Regions from separate parts of the Homo sapiens genome. Here region 2 is linked to region 1. A link means that fine-mapping ties the variant in region 1 to the plasma level of a protein whose gene starts in the linked region. Region 1 holds a variant in brackets. A gene starts in the other region. All regions are shown on their forward strands.

Region 1 (2,818 bases):
ATCATCCGGACTCCATACCTCCAGCTCACCGAGGGCCTGGCGACCACACCCCAGACCTGCACCATCCAGACGCCGCACATCCAGCTCACAGCAGGGCCTGGCGACCTCACCCCGGACCTGCATCATCCGGACTCCATACCTCCAGCTCACCGAGGGCCTGGCGACCACACCCCAGACCTGCACCATCCAGACGCCGCACATCCAGCTCACAGCAGGGCCTGGCGACCTCACCCCGGACCTGCATCATCCGGACTCCATACCTCCAGCTCACCGAGGGCCTGGAGACCTCACCCCTGACCTGCACCATCCGGACACCGCATATCCAGCTCACAGCAGGGTCTGGCGACCTCACCCCGGACCGGCACCATCCGGACTCCATACATCCAGCTCACCGAGGGCCTGGCGACCTCACTCCAGACCTGCACCATCCAGACACCGCACATCCAGCTCACCGCAGGGTCTGGCGACCTCACCCCGGACCTGCACCATCTGGACACTGCACATCCAGCTCACCGAGGGCCTGGCGACCTCACTCCAGACCTGCACCATCCAGACACCACACATCCAGCTCACAGCAGGGCCTGGCGACCTCACCCCAGACCTGCACCATCCAGACACCACACATCCAGCTCACAGCAGGGCCTGGTGACCTCACACCGGACCTGCAGCATCCGGACACCCCACATCCAACTCACAGCAGGGCCTGGCAACCTCACCCCAGACCTGCACCATCCGGACACCGCATATCCAGCTCACCGCACGGTCTGGCACCGTCTGGCGACCTCACTCCAGACCTGCACCATCCAGACACCGCACACCCAGCTCACCGCAGGGCCTGGTGACCTCACCCCAGACCTGCACCATCCAGACACCACACATCCAGCTCACAGCAGGGCCTGGCGACCTCACCCCGGACCTGCATCATCCGGACTCCATACCTCCAGCTCACCGAGGGCCTGGAGACCTCACCCCTGACCTGCACCATCCAGACACCACACATCCAGCTCACAGCAGGGCCTGGCGACCTCACCCCGGACCTGCATCATCCGGACTCCATACCTCCAGCTCACCGAGGGCCTGGAGACCTCACCCCTGACCTGCACCATCCAGACACCACACATCCAGCTCACAGCAGGGCCTGGCGACCTCATCCCAGACGTGCACCATCCGGACACTGCACATCCAGCTCACTGAGGGCCTGGCGACCTCATCCCGGACCTGCACCATCTGGTACAACAGCCATGGCCATGGGAAGCCCAGCAGGTCCAGGCCGAGATGGCCACGCACGGGACCTACACACGGGATCCCGCAGACAAAGCTCAAAAAATGTCAAATGTCCTGTGAGTGATGCTCCCACCAATAACACCCTAAAATGATGAGGTGTGGACATGCTGGGCTTCAGTAAAATCTATTATTACATTAATTTCACCTTTTCTTTTTTACTTTTTTAATGTGGCTACTAGAATTTTTTTTTTTTTTTTTTTTTTTGAGACAGAGTCTCGCTGTGTTGCCAGGCTGGAGTGCAGTGGTGCAATGTCGGCTCACTGCAACTTCCAACTCCCAGGTTCAAGCAATTCTCCTGCCTCAGCCTCCCGAGTAGCTGGGATTACAGGCACCCGCCACCACGCCCAGCTAATTTTTGTGTTTTTAGTACAGATGGGGTTTCATCATGTTGGCCAGGATGGTCTCGACCTCCTGACCTCGTGATCCACCCGCCTTGGCCTCCCAAAGTGCTGGGATTACAGGCGTGAGCCACCG[C/A]GCCCAGCCTAGAAATTTTAAAATTATCCACATGGCTCACGTCATGCTCCTGTTGGGCGACAACGGCTCGGAGCCTCATCCTTTGTCCTGGTTCCCAAGCAGAAGGGAGGAAGCAGACACTCCCCCGCCAGGCAGCACCGTCAGAGCTGGCGCCACACCGCAGGTTTGCGCGATTTCAAACTCGACACCGCGGAGCCACCAGACCCCGACATGCCTGGGGTTTTCCAGGCTGAACCCAGGCCGAGCGGACGTTGCTGTCACTCACTGGCTAAGGAACGCTGGCCACGTGGTGCTCCAGACACTCACGGGCCAAGATGACCGCCCTCCTCGTGAGTCTCCACATCTTCATCTGTGCATCATAAGCAGAGGTCCCCGGACGTCGCTAGATGCCATGGAGGCCAGCACAGGTAAAGCTGGGGTTTACCAGCAATAACAAGACAGAAGAACCACGCAAAGGACAAGGAAGGGGACCCCAGACGGCGGGCCTGAGACAGAAGACAGACGGGGAACAAAGGAGGAAAAGCAGGGCGGGGGCAAAGCTACAGAAACACTCAACACGGAAAACAATATTAATAATGCTTAGCTTGTGGGGGTGTCAAGATGCCTGAGATAGAACTAAGTCAGCAGGGAAAACAGCACACAGGCTGGGGGGTGGCCAGAGCTAAAATACACTAAGGGTCTTATTGCTCAGGACAAGGGTAGCAATGTTTCAGACTTCATTTTAAAAGATCAAGGTATGCCGGGCACGGTGGCTTGCACCTGTAATCCCAGCACTGTGGGAGGCCAAGGCGGGCAGATCACTTGAGGTCAGGAGTTTGAGACCAGCCTGGCCAACATGGTGAAAGCCTATCTCTACTAAAAATACAAAAATTAGCCAGGCGTGGTGGTGGGCGCCTGTAATCCCAGCTACTCATGAGGTTGAGGAATGAGAACTGCTTGAACCGAGGAGGCAGAGGTTGCAGTGAGCCGAGATTGTGCCATTACACTCCAGCCTGGGTGACAGAGTGAGACTGTCTCAATAAACAAAAGCAAACAACGACAATAAAAAGATCAGGGGGTA
Region 2 (2,818 bases), not on the chromosome of region 1:
TGTCAAAAGCATTAACACATGTGAGTATAATGTGTGCACTATAGGTATAGACACATTTATAAACTAGTCACAGCACAGAAAAGTATTTGATGCAATATTTTCTTACTTAAAATTTAATAGTTAATCTTTATTCTGATCACTTTCTTTCATCTTATTATGTATCTGTGATACAGAAAGCAGCCTATGCCAATATGCAAAGTTTGCAAAACTGCTAGACTTCATCAAGTAAGAAATTCGTAAAGATATCCAAATAAGAATAGCTGTCTTGCATTTCTTGAGAAGCACTTTTTTTTCAAGGATGAATTCCCTCCCTTTTACTTGAATTCAATAAATAACGTAACTGAAATTCATAGCAATTATCAGATTTACATTACTTGAGAATTCTGACACTCTTCCTCCCAATTCATCCCTGCCTGTTACAAATCAGAAGCCCCAATTTACCTCATAACTTATCAATGTAGGGTAACTCCCAGGCTTGAAACTTGTCATCAATTTAATTTCTTTTGATCCACTTTCAGAGGTCTTAGTCATACAGGCAGACATTCTAGATTTGGTTTTAACTAGCAGAAGAGGCAACACCGGATCTTCTATGGCTATTGCAAATACTCCCAGAGTTTCCTGGATAGCATTTAGCCACAGGGAAGAAAAGCATTTTACTTTAAAATCTTCTGTCTAGTGGTAAATAACCCCTTTCATGTTGTCATTAGGTAGTTCTGTGGTCTCCTACTATCTGACTCTTCAGAATCACTTCTAATATGCTACGGAAGATAAAGCCGTATGTGGAAATTGCTTCCTTAGATGAAATATGCACGATAGATATTATATTTAAATTACCTACATAAACATGACTGAGTAGACTGACTTTTGACTGAAAAACTTCTAAAAGCCTTTTTTTTTTGTTTTTGATCTGAGTGCATTTCATGAGGTAAATTGCATTTTATGTTGATGGTCTTTAATAAAATACTTTTTAATCTTGAGATCAGTGCTATAATTTTGTTTTGACCAATTTAAAACTTTTGCTATGGCATCCCATATAGCTGTATGTTTTAATATTAGTAAAAGTTACTGATGTGAAAGTATGCACACACATATATTCATAGTTTTTCATTTTTCTATTAAAAATAGTTCTAGTACAATTGTTTCCACAAGTCATAGACATGGGAATTAGTTATATTACTTTAGAATGAAAGGTAAAAATTTATTTAAATTTCAAACTGGATAAAAGTGCTTTTGGAATAATAAAGCTGTCTATGTATTAGCTTCTCAGCTTAAAATGAATATATTAAGATAATTACTCTCATTAAAAGTTATCAATAAACTTTGGAAAATTGTAGATAAAATATACGAATATATCACTTTATCATTGATAAGGTATAAATGTGTTGTTCACCTTGAAATAAATAATGTTCACCTTGAAATAAAGGAGTTATCACTTACCAGTGGTTTCCAGAGCAGGATGAAGTATTTGTTTCATCTATTGACAGAAGGAAGGTGCAGAGAGAGAAGGTTAGAGCCGTATATATGAAACACCTATTTCCTGTTTTGGCAAATTCTGGTTGTGCAAGTAACTCTAGATCAACAAGGCCTGAAACAGGATTTGTCATACCAGTAGTCTCAAATTTCATTGCTGGTTTTCTAGTCATGATTTTGAAATTATTTGGTGATTCCTCAAATGGCTTTTAAAAATAAATTGCTATATCAAGTTTTGTAATTGTGCATTTATTCTTTGAAGTTCATATATTACAATTTATCCATGTTTTTGCCAGTCAATAGTTTGAAAATTCTTAGCCCAATTATTAGCATCACAACATTAGAGTTTTCAGAATTATTTCTGTTGGATTGAAATTAAGCTCATAATTTTTATGAACTCTAGAGAACACAATGTTTTTTACAGCTATCTAAAATGTTTATTAATAATCTATTGGACATTACTGTTTTGGATAATAATTTTATCTTTAATGTTTGTAAATACAAGGCCACAGTGACTTTCAGAACTCAATGGCCAAACACACCATAACTCATTGGTATTTCTATATTCAAAGATGTGCTGTATTTACTTGTATTTTCTGGTTGTATAAAATTAAAGATAATATTGATCTCCAAGCTAAATTATCATTATTTGGTTCTGTTCATCTATGGAAGATGTCAATCATTCCAGGCTTGTTTCCATAGCACAATAATGAAGTGGGGTGGACTAACAATTTCAGATTTCCTCTGATTCTAAAATACAATAATCTTAAATATTGAGTTTATATAAATAAAGAAGTATAAATTAATAAATCACAAGTAGCATATACATAGCACGCAGACATTTCTGCATGCTCATATTGGCATATAGATTGCACCTTGTGGTGCATAATTCAATAGTTTCTGTTCATTTTCATTTTTATATTTAGCTTTATTGATCAATGTGACAAAATGTATAATCACAGATCAATGTCTACACAATAGGCACATTTTAAAATTATAGTTAATTTTGAGTTCAAGAATTGGATACTTCTAAATGTCTGTTATAAGAGAGTTGAGAACTCAGAAACTCAGGTCAGATTTTACCATTAAAAAATGGTTAACCATTTGCTGCCATGTCTCCAAGTAACTCCTAGAATCTGTTTACTTTATGAACATGTGAAGTGGAAGCTCTCAATAAACCAAATCAGCTATGTGGAAAAAATCACCATGGAACAACCTTCTACACAATCCTCTTTCTGTGGCAAAATGTATTTTGTGGGGAAGGACCAGACCCAGAAGCATCCACAGCCCATTCTCTTCTCTACTTAGTGGTGTAGAATGTTGTTAAAAGCTTGATATTTCTGTTTTA

Alleles and levels. Alleles are on the strand shown, and positions count from the first base shown. The strength of an association depends on the size of the effect and on how common the allele is.
As copies of C replace A in region 1, the plasma level of the protein whose gene starts at base 1,495 in region 2 goes down (weak association).

What was found. PIP is the chance, under the fine-mapping model, that this variant and not a neighbour inherited with it causes the effect. Protein levels are from antibody-based Olink assays in UK Biobank. Linkage for the fine-mapping came from a reference panel and not from the study's own genotypes, which makes the PIPs less certain.
Region 2: it holds the start of CRISP3, and the variant in region 1 is fine-mapped to the plasma level of the CRISP3 protein (UK Biobank, PIP above 0.99).

What each region holds. Positions count from the first base shown.
Region 1 is chr5:1,284,101-1,286,918 of GRCh38, forward strand. The region is part of intron 2 of TERT (telomerase reverse transcriptase); the gene reads right to left. Among named protein-coding and RNA genes, the nearest start is that of TERT, 9.6 kb to the right of the region's middle. RefSeq lists an enhancer at 2,374-2,818. The variant C/A (reference allele first, on the strand shown) is at 1,759.
Region 2 is chr6:49,742,894-49,745,711 of GRCh38, forward strand. CRISP3 (cysteine rich secretory protein 3) reads right to left here and starts at 1,495. Exons shown (of 8, transcript NM_006061.4): 1 at 1,438-1,495. The coding sequence starts at 1,474.